2 separate regions of the Homo sapiens genome follow, and region 2 is linked to region 1. Evidence: fine-mapped expression QTL. A gene starts in region 1. The other region holds a variant in brackets. All regions are shown on one strand. Distances are from middle to middle. Region 1 holds the start of PAPOLA (poly(A) polymerase alpha). Region 2 overlaps AK7 (adenylate kinase 7).

Region 1 (5,377 bases):
GGTTTCAACATGTTTGCCAGGCTGATCTCCAACTCCTGACCTCAAGTGATCTTCCAACCTCAGCCTCCCAAAGTGTTGGGATTACAGGCGTGAGCCACTGCGCCCGGCCTCATTTTATTTTTAAAAATTGTTCTCTTTACCTGAGATGCCCTTCTACTCCTTCTGTCCACTTACCAAACCCTAACATATCAGGACGTGTCTGAAGTGACCTCTTACATGAAGTCTACCTTGACTCCATCCTCAATCCTCAATATTGTTCCTTTTAAATGCCTTAGGCAAGTAGCGTGATATCTAGCACATTCTAGGTACTAAATATTCATCAGCTGTGCTATCTAGCTGCCTCATTCTATGGAAGGCTGAAACAAAAATAGTTTGAAGCAATTATAGACCAAAAGCATGGATGTTTAGCGTCCCTCTCTTCACTGCCTTCTGAGATGCCTGGCAGAGGACAACATAAGCTGAAAAAGTCCCCATTCTTTTATTCATAAAGTACATCGTTAGTGCATTTTTTTTTTTTTTTTTTGAACAATGTCTTGCTCTGTTGCCAAGCTAGAGTGCAATGGCATGATCAGGGCTCACTGCAGTCTCAACTTCCTTGCCTCAGGTGATCCTCCCAACCTCAGCCTCCCAAGTAGCTGGGACTACAGGTGTGTGCCACCAAGGCCAGCTAATTTTTTTGATTTTTTTTTTTAGTAGAGACAACGACTTGCCACGTTGCCCAGGGTGGCCTAGAACTCCCGAGCTCAAGGAATCCTCTGCCTCCCAAAGTGCTGGGATTACAGGTGTGAGTGAGCCACTGTGCCAGGCCCCAGGGCATATCTTTACAAGCTGCTTTGAAGTCCATAGCCTTAATACATTATTGAATTATCTGGATCTCAGATTTTCAGTCTTTTAGGGACAACTATGCTACTGGGTCTCCAGCCAAAGCCACCTTGATGACAAGAGGAAAAGAGACTAAATGGAAGAAATGACAATCAAATATAAGTCTGTTTGCAGATCAGCACTATTTAATGGAAATGAAGGCCACATATATAACTTAAAATTTTCTAGTGGTCACATTTAAAAAAACAGGTAAAATTAATTTTAATAGTATATTTTCTTTTTTTTTTTTTTGAGACAGGATCTCGTTCTGTCAACGCAGGCTGGAGTGCAGTAGTGAGATGACGACTCACGGCAGCCTCCACCTCCCACTCCAGGGATCCTCCTACCTCAGTCTCCGGAGTAACTGGGACCACAGGCAGGAACTACCATGCCCAGCTAATTTTTTTTTCTTTTTTCTTTTTTTTTTTTTTTTTTTAACTTTTTGTATAGACGGGGGTTTCCCTATATTGCCCAGGCTGGTCTCTAACTCCTGCCCAAGCGATCCTCCCACCTCAGCCTCCTAAAGTGCTGGATCACAGGTGTGAGACACCGTGCCCGGCTTACATTTTCTTTACTGCAATATATCCAAAATATTTCAACGTGCAATCAATATAAAAAGTGATCAGTGAGGTATTTCACATTCGTCGAACTGACACCCGTGCGTATTTTGCACTTCCAGTGCCTCCTAAACGAACTAGCCTCATTTCAAGTGCTCAGTGGCCCTAAGTGGCCAAGGGGCTACACTAATGGACAGGGCAGGTCTAGGTCCTGTGTTTTTCCCATTCGGAGTCACCAGTCCTACTAGACATTCTGTGAAAAAAGGGAAAGCCTTTGTGAAACTTCCTGAGGACTCACAAATGCACATTATTACATTTAGAGTTTAGAACTTTGGTTAAGGCAGCGTCCTGTATTTGATTCTTTCCCTCTTCCTCTCCGCTAACCCCCTATGTGACACCGTAGAACTTATAATTCGTTCTAATTCGCAGATGGAGGGCATATGAGAGAGGAGGCTCTGCCTCAAACACTTTCTCAAACTTTTGCCGAGGGGTGGCGAGAAGGTAGACTTCCAGGTCCCACCCGATATAGATTAAGGGCTGGAAACACAGTCAAGGGGAAATTATGACCAAGACAACCTTTGCTAAAATGCCAGCGGTGACTGCCATTGATGTTCCTATAAAAGGTCAGCTCTGTCAGGAAGTTCCAGTGCATCATTTGTTCAAAAGTAAAATCAGCCCGTGTTCCAGAATTCGCGGACTGTCGTCAGTCCTAACCTACACATTTATTCGTTCAACAAATATTTCAGCGCCTGGGTCAGGCATCAGGAATACACTGGTGGTTAAAACAGACGGAAAGCTCCATCTGGTGGGACGCAGTCTGGGAGGGAAAGGGAGTCCTGGGGACATGTTTTCGTCGGCTCTAGGCTAAGCACCTCTCGCCGTAGCACACGGGGTCGGCACCGCTGCCCGGCGAAGTACTTGTTACTTTGCAGTCCAGTACGAAGCGGCGGAGTAACCGGTTCCAACCCAAGGCAGCGACTCATGCGAGTCGTTCTAAGCGCCGCGCTGGGGGGTACATACGGTGCACGCGTGGGTGCCTCACCCCCTGGCAGCGCCTCCAGGGACGCTGCTCCGGGAAAGAGCAGCCGCCGCGACCTCAGGCGGCGGGAAAGGTGGGACCTCACAATGCGCCGGAAGCGGTGCCTCGTGGCTTGGGATCTCTCCGGGTTCTTCCTTGCGCCGTCCACGCCGCACTGCCCACGAGGGCGTCCCCGCCCGAGGGACAACTCACCGCCCGGGGCCTCCCTGAGCGTTCCCTTCCACCATCTGACACCCACTGCTAAGTGTGAGAGGACCCAGGGGGTAATTGCCGGGCCGCAGGCGGCCTTAGGAACTCCGCTTCCCGTGAGGCTTCGCGGCGGACGGCGCTGGTGCGCAGGCGCACGCACGGCGTGCGTGGTGGCGTCAGCAGTTCTAGAACGTTGCTGTGGTAGCGCTCGGGCGCCATGTTAGGACGAAGGGGAAGGAGGAGAAGCGCTTAAAGCGGCGGGAGCGGTGCGGGAGAGGGGTTGGACCCAGGGCTGAGGCAGGCCCCCCCCTCCCTCCCGCCTCAGTGGATCATGCCCAGGGCGGCAGCGGCGGCGGTTGCGGGGGGGAAGTGACTGGGCGGTGCCGGCGCCGGAGACGATGCCGTTGTAAGTAATTTGTATTCTGTTTTCTTTCGCTCGCCGGCTGGGCCTTGGGGGGCGTCCGGGAAGGGGAAGAGGTAGGCGGAGAGGGTGGCACGCGAGCCCGACCCTCCCCGCTGGTAGGAGGCAGGCAGGACTGGGGACCTTCCTGTTTCCTCGCTCGCTCGCCGCCGCACTTCCCCCCGTGTGCTGGGTTCCCGCGTCCCCCGACCCTTCCTGGCTGGGTCAGCTGCCGTCGGGCCGGGGGCCTTCCCCTTCCGGAATTGCTGGCGGAACCTCTAACTCGCCCGGCCACTCCAGCTTCTCCGCCCCGTCCACAAAGAAAATCAAAACAACCCGAAAACAAAACATTGCCTGGTGGTGGGGAACCACGACCCTGCTGCACGCGGGATCAGCACTTGGGGTTCGGGCTCGCTCTCGGCGCCCCTCGGGCCCATTCGATGTTGCTTTTCTGTTCCTGGTCTGTCTCAGTTTGCTCACTCTCTTCCTCCCATTTCCAGATGCCTGTCTTGTGCGCCGGAGTTAGCCCCTTTCCACTGACCTTGTCTGAATGTAGGAGCACGAGTTAAAAGCCCAGCTTTGAGCGTTGAGTCCGCCTGCCTCCACCTCCGCCTCCCTAGCATTCACAGGCGGTCGGAGAAGGGGGCACTTCACAGGGTGCCCTCCTCCAAAACGACTTATGTATTGCTTTCCCTGTTTTGTTTTGATGGGGTAACCAGGTTTCATTCTGTTTCCTTCTTTCTCTATCTCTGGTGATACTTTTTTTTTCCTGGTTGTAAGGCTTGAAGCTAGTCTCTTTATGCTTTCTAATGCCACTGCGCCTTTTTCTTTTCTTGGTGGGTTTTTAAAAAGTTTTTTTCTCCCCTCCCCCTTTCTGATAATGAGATATAATTTGGCAGCTCATTGCCAGTAGATTACGGATTTTTTTTTTCCTGCAAATATACAGCATTGTAGAGGCCTAAATAGTGAGACTGCATTTCTTCCATTTTTGAATATTGAAGCGTAAGAGTGCCTCTTTGAGACCAGGGACCGAGTTTTCTTCATCTTAGTAGCCTCAAAACGCAACATGTAATTGACACTCAAAGTTTTGGTTAAATTCAGGATAAAGATTTTTGTGGTTTCTAGACATCGAATGTAGTAACTCAGGTCTATTTTTTTTTTGTAAGTAAGGATAATTTCTTTAGCACATAATCACCGATTGTAGTTTTACAATTATATATGTGTGTGAATGTGTTTCTTTACAGGTGAGACTCTAACTTTGGCACAGACCTTAATGACTTCTATCGCAATTTATGTATTTTAAAAGGATTTTCCATGGCTCCCACCCACCCCCTTAGGTTATTAAGAAGTCTATCACATTACTTCTGTGATGAAAACGTTTGTTAGACTTAACTAACTATACAGGTCTAAAATCTTGGAATCTGCATGGTTTCTGTTTATTGATTTTTCCCTTTCATAGAATAAGAGACCCTAGGAGAACTGAGTCTAAGCAAGATTGTTGTGGTGTTTCTCAGTTCAATAGGAGATAAATGTTTGCAGTGATGTCGTGATGACTGCGTTATTAAGTTAACATTTTGCTGTCTTTGAAAAGGGACTTCTTTTTCTGATAATCATACCAGCATTAAAAATGATAGATGTAAACCTTAAAAGGCTTCAATGAAGAAATAACATTAAGTAATTTGTGTCTTATTTCTAGGAATTAAAAGTACTTTTATACCTACTTTCCCCCAACATTCTTTGAAGAGGGAAGGTATACATTTCTGTGAAAGACCTTAGGTATTTCAAATTCTTCGCGAGTTAGTTCAAGTGTGTAAAATGGAAGACGGGGCCAGGCGCGGTGGTTCACGCCTGTAATCCCAGCACTTTGGGAGGCCCAGGCAGGTAAATCGCTTGAGGCCAGGAGTTTGAGATCAGCCTGGGCAACATGGCGAAACTTCATCTCAACAAAAAACACAAGTTAGCTGGGCGTGGTGGCTCATGCCTGTAATCCCAGCTACTTGGGAGGTTGAGGTGGGAGGACTGCTTGAGCCCAGGAGGCTGAGGCTGCAGTGAGCCTTGATCATGCCACTGCGTTCCAGCCTGGGTGACAGAGCGAGACTCAAAAAGTAAGTATACGATAATTACTGTAGTAAACAATAGAGAGACCAAAGAATGCCTAGTTAAAGAAAAATAGGGCTTCTTCCTCATTAAGTTGCTTTGTTTTTCATGTACTGCTGTCACACTGTCATAAATGTTGTTTTTTTGATGTGTTGGATTGTGATTTCCCGGCTATATTGTGTTTGGCTTTCATTTTTGGTATACCTGTCCTAATGTTAAATTTGGATGGGTGAG
Region 2 (5,377 bases), 30 kb before region 1:
TAGAGATGAGAGTTTCTCCATGTTGGTCAGGCTGGTCTCGAACTCCCAACCTCAGGTAATCCACCCACCTTGGCCTCCCAAAGTGCTGAGATTATAGGTGTGAGCCACCGCGCCCGCCCGGGAGAGGTGTTTTAATTAGATCAGTTTATTGTCATTGATAGAGTAATAAAAAAGAAGCCTGAAATTATTTATTTTACATTATGTAAAATGAGGGGGGAGGAGGAGGGAAGGAAGAGGGGGAGGATGAGAAGGCGGAGAAGGATGAGGAGGGAGAGGAGGAGGGGGAGTCACTGATAAGGTAAAAGAATAATAGATTCACTGATAAGGTAAAGGAATAGTACAAACTCTGGAAAGAGCTTTGAAGATCAATTTCCCTAACTTGTCAAACTTACATTACTATAATGTACACATTAAGCAAGGTAAGGATGGGGCTGCGTTTTGAACATTGTAGCTGTTCAATAATTATGATGGAGTGATGGATATTGTGGTGGAGTTGCATCATGTTGTTATTAAACCACTGTGCCAGTTTTAGAACAAACTCCTCCCTCCTCATCCTTCCCAAGCAGTGCCAGGAACCCAGTGTCAGGGCTTGAGAGGGAACTGTCCAGTGGGGCTGAGGTCAGAAATGCCAACTGGAAAAGACACGGAGAAGGGAGCCGTGTTCTTTTCTGAAGCATTACAGAGAAAAGTGCCTTTGAGGGTCGGGTCAAGTTTGATTGTTAGTCAAATCCAGCACCTTCTTTTAGTAAATTATGTGCTGGCAACAAACATGAATGCTATCTCACAATTCTCACAACAGAAGCATTTATTATTGTATAGTAAGGTTACAGAGGTGTAATATCAAAACAGAAACCCTGCGGGCGGGCGGAGCTCTCTGCATTACTCCAGTTGCTGCTCCTCAATCAATTTCACCAAAAATTGGGATTACAGAACACTTTGAAAGTGCAGACATCGGCACTCGCCCATGCTCTTTCTTGCAGACAAGTTCACTGGGTTCTCCTACATTACTGTGCATTAGAATTCACATCATGTTCAAAGTACAAAATCACATATTTTTTACTTTAAGGGCCAAAATGTAATCCCAACATTTTGGGAGGCCAAGGTGGGAGGATTGCTTGAGGCCAGGAGTTCAAGACTAGCCTGGGCAACATTGCAAGATCCTTTCTCTACAAAACGTTTAAAAATCAGTGGGGCATGGTGGCAAGCGCCTATAGTCCCAGCTACTTGGGAGGCTGAGGTGGGAAGATTGCAGAGCCTGGGAGGCTGAGACTGCAGTGAGCTATGACCACACCACTGCATTCCAGCCTGGGCGACAGAGTGAGACCCCGTCTCTTTAAAAAAAAAAAAAAAAAAAAAGCAAAATAGGGATTTCCAATAGTACCTTTGACTACACAACAATTTTTGAGATAACTTTAAAACAACTCTTACTTAGAATGTGATACATTATAAGTAATATATACATATATGTTTTTTTATCAGGTCAACTAGACGATCAATATATAATTAGATTTATGAAAGAAAAGCTAAAATCAATGCCTTGCAGGAATCAAGGTTATATTTTGGATGGATTCCCAAAGACCTATGATCAAGCAAAAGACCTGTTCAATCGTAAGTTTGAGTGTTCTATTTTGAGTATTTATATTCAGATAAGTTGCAACTTTATTGTTCAGAGAAGTAGTCACTCAATTAAAGTAAACAGAAAACTAGAGAGACTATTTATTTTTGAGCTTTGGCTCACCTTTCTTTACGTAGCTTTTTTTTTTCTTTTTTTTTCCCCCTGGATGGTGGCTCAAGGTGCATAGCCTTTTACAAATTTTTTAAAATTTTATTTTATTGTATTGTGGCACAAATACTTAACACGAGATCTGCCCTCGGAACAAGCTTTTAAGTGTGCGATACATTATCGTTGGCTATAGGCACTGTGATGTTCAGCACACCTCTAGAGCTTATGCATCTTGCCTGATTAAAACTTTACGCCTGTTGATTAGTAACTTTTGTTTTTTCCCCTCCCCAGCCCCTGGCAACCACCATCCCACTCTTTCATTCTTTGAATTTGACTACTCAAGTTCCCCATGTAAGTGGAATCATGTAGCATTTGTCTTTCTGTCACTGATTTCACTTAGCATAATGTCCTCAAGGTTCATCCTTGTTGTTGCATATAGCAGAATTTCCTTTAAAAAAAAAATAGACCATCCGTCACCCAGGCTGGAGCACAGTGATATATACAATCATAGTTTACTGCAGCCTTGACCTCCTGGGCTCAAGTGGTTTTCCTGCCTCAGTCTCCCGAGTAGCTGGGACTACAGGCGTGCATGACCACGCCC[G/A]ACTAATTTAAAAATGTTATGGAGGTTTCACCCTGTTGCCAGGTTGATCTCTGAACTCCTGGCTTCAGGTGATCCTACTGCCTTGGCCTCCCAAATTGTTGGGATTACAGGTGTGAGCCATGATGCCCAGCCATTTCCTTCTTTTTAAAGGCTGAATAGTATTCTGTTGGATGTATATACTACATTTTCTTTATCCATGCATCTATCAATGTACATTTAGTTTGTGAGACTATTTCTAAAATACATGTGCTATTTATGGCTAGTTTTCATTAGTGCTTGCTACTTAAGATATTTGGAATTTTTTGCTGTGATCCATAGTAATAATATATTAATAAACACAATGAGGAATATTTTGTTTTCTTAGAGGAAGATGAGGAGGAGGAAGATGATGTCAGAGGCAGAATGTTTCCCTTTGATAAATTAATTATACCTGGTAAGTTTATTTCCCTAAGATCACATTTAAAAGAATGTTCTCTGGGCTGGGCGTGGTGGCTCACGCCTGTAATCTCAGAACTTTGGGAGGCCAAGGCGGGTGGATCACCTGAGGTCAGGAGTTCAAGACCAGCCTGGCCAACATGGCGAAACCCCATCTCTACTAGAAATACAAAAATTAGCTGGGTGTCGTAGCGTGTGCCTGTAGTCCTAGCTACTCGGGAGGCTAAGGCAGGAGAATCACTTGAACCCAGAAGACAGAGATTGCAGTGAGCCGAGATCCTGCCACTGCACTCCAGCCTGGGCGACAGAGACTCTGTTTCAAAAGAAAAGAAGAATGCTGTCTGATATCTCTCTCTTTTCTCTTTGTTTTCCCCGGTAACTGGGACTACAGGTGCCTGCCACCATGCCCAGCTAATTTTTTTTTTTTTTTTGAGACTGAGTCTTGCCCTGTTGCCCAGGCTGGAGTGCAGTGGCGCGATCTCAGCTCACTGCAAGCTCTGCCTCCCGGGTTCACGCCATTCTCCTGCCTCAGTCTCCCCAGCAGCTGGGACTACAGGCGCCTACCACCATGACTGGCTAATTTTTTTGTATTTTTAGTAGAGACGGGGTTTCACCATGTTAGCCAGGATGGTCTCGATCTCCCGACCCACCCGCCTTGGCCTCCCAAAGTGCTGGGATTACAAGTGTGAGCCACCTTGCCCAGGCTCTTTTTTTTTTTTTTTAACTACTTCTTAAGGAGCAGGGCTACACCATAGGCAGTGTGCCTAGAGTAGCCCAATATCCCTTTTGTGCCAAAAGAATCTTTTTGAGTTTAATAAAGTAGGATTTTTTTTTTTAGGAAAAATATTAAAAGACATTCTCAAGCATAAACTTGCAAACTAGAGAATGCACCAACGGATAAACATGAGGAATATTAAATTGCTGAAATGAATAGAAATCCCTGTGGGAACGTTGTCTTCCACTGCTCTCTCCTGTAACAAAGCAAAAGGTAGCAAATCTGCTGATGGCTTGACTTCGTGAGTCATGTAGCCTCCTTCCCTGCCCTGGTTTTGGTGCTAACCGTGCCCTCATCTCTTCCAAAAGACATTCAGCTTCTGACTTGAGATTGCACAGGTCAAAAGCTTTTCAGTTCACTCTTAACTCCACAGTGGTTTTATTCTATCACATATTTACACAGGGATTTCACAAAGTACTCTTGAAAGCAAAGCATAAGCAATTTATCGTACACAACAGGATTTACTTAGTACTGAGCAGGCATTTCTTGTGACCTTCCTGTAAACGTTAAAAAGTGTTGTTGTTTTTAGTCAGTTTGCTTGAGGTAGATATTCATAGGGAATCATTTTGGGTCATATGATCGCTAGAAGAAAAGCTATTTTCAGCAACTTAGGACAAGGCTGTAACTGAAAAGGGCCTGCCTGCTCACTGGTATCAAGTCCCCGAGGAAGGCAGCTTGTGGCTGTTTTCTTCTCTTGGTCCAGCACAGTTTGCAGAGAAGCTTCTGGAAGGACTGAGACCACCAGATAGCAGTCATCCTTGGGGATGGATATTTATTGTTTGCCTGTGGGCTAAGTTGATTGGCCAGACACAGTGCCTGTAATGCCAGCACTTTGGAAGGTCAAGGTGGGAGGATCTCTTGAGCTCAGGAGTTAGAGACCAGCCTGGGCAACATAGTGAGACCTCATATCTACTAAAAAAAAAAAAAAAAAAAAATCAAAAAAATTAGCTGGGGGTGGTGGCATGCACCTGTAGTCCCAGCTACTTGGAAGGCTGAGGTAGGAGAATCACTTGAGTGTGGGAAGTCAAGGCTGCAGGTGCCCTGATTACACCACTGCACTCCAGCCTGGGCAACAGAGCAAGAACCGGTCTCAAAAAAATTAATTAAAAAAATAAAATAAAAAGTAAAGTTTGTTCATCTACTTTATTGTTGATTATTAAATTCTAGGTAGGTGTGTCCAGTGCATTTTGTTTATCACTTCTAGGCAATATTCACTCATTGCAAACTCTGTGCTAAATCATAACACCCATAACATCCAGGCAGCTGGATACATTTCAGTTCAACTGGCAATTGGTCGTGCACAATTTGTCATGTGCCAGGCACTCATTGAACCTTTCCACAATCCTGCAAGGCAGGAATTACACCCATGTTTACCCAATCCAGAAGCTAAAGCCTAGAGATTTATGCAAGTCCACTCACTAGTAAATGGTAGGGGGATTAAATTAAAACTCAGGTCTTCTCACTCCACTGCCTCCAAAACAATTAATGAAACCTGCCTGTGAGATAAGGAAATGGAAGCACAGAGGTCAAGTGACCAAGGACTCTTAAACGTAGGCCACTGGACTTTCCATTCTTTGTTGGACACAGTGCAAACACGTCTAAGACGTAATCTATTTGGAACGTTAATCTGTTGTTAGCAAACTTTTCAGAAATTGTCTTTATTTTCTATTTCTCTGAAAGAAAGTAGGGCATTGTTTCATTCGTACTTGTAGGATTTTAATTGAGGGAGGGAACTGAATGGTGACATAGAGAGGTCAATGCCATTGAAATAATTTACACTTAGGATTCCCTAGAGATGGGGGCACATGGGGAATGCCAGGTTTGGTCAGGCGGCAGAAGCAAG

The links.
Region 2: its variant is fine-mapped to the expression of PAPOLA in whole blood (INTERVAL, PIP above 0.99).

What each region holds. Positions count from the first base shown.
Region 1 is chr14:96,499,549-96,504,925 of GRCh38, forward strand. It overlaps PAPOLA (poly(A) polymerase alpha), which reads left to right and starts at 2,834. Exons shown (of 22, transcript NM_032632.5): 1 at 2,834-3,052. The coding sequence starts at 3,045. PAPOLA-DT (PAPOLA divergent transcript) reads right to left here and starts at 2,778. Exons shown (of 1, transcript NR_122121.1): 1 at 2,100-2,778. RefSeq lists enhancers at 1,539-2,135, 2,136-2,730, 2,648-2,907, 2,731-3,326, 4,482-4,983 and 1 more and silencers at 2,246-2,589, 3,028-3,147.
Region 2 is chr14:96,469,999-96,475,375 of GRCh38, forward strand. AK7 (adenylate kinase 7) reads left to right here. Exons shown (of 18, transcript NM_152327.5): 13 at 1,480-1,608; 14 at 2,689-2,757. Among named protein-coding and RNA genes, the nearest start is that of PAPOLA-DT, 30 kb to the right of the region's middle. RefSeq lists a silencer at 4,040-4,240. The variant G/A (reference allele first, on the strand shown) is at 2,325.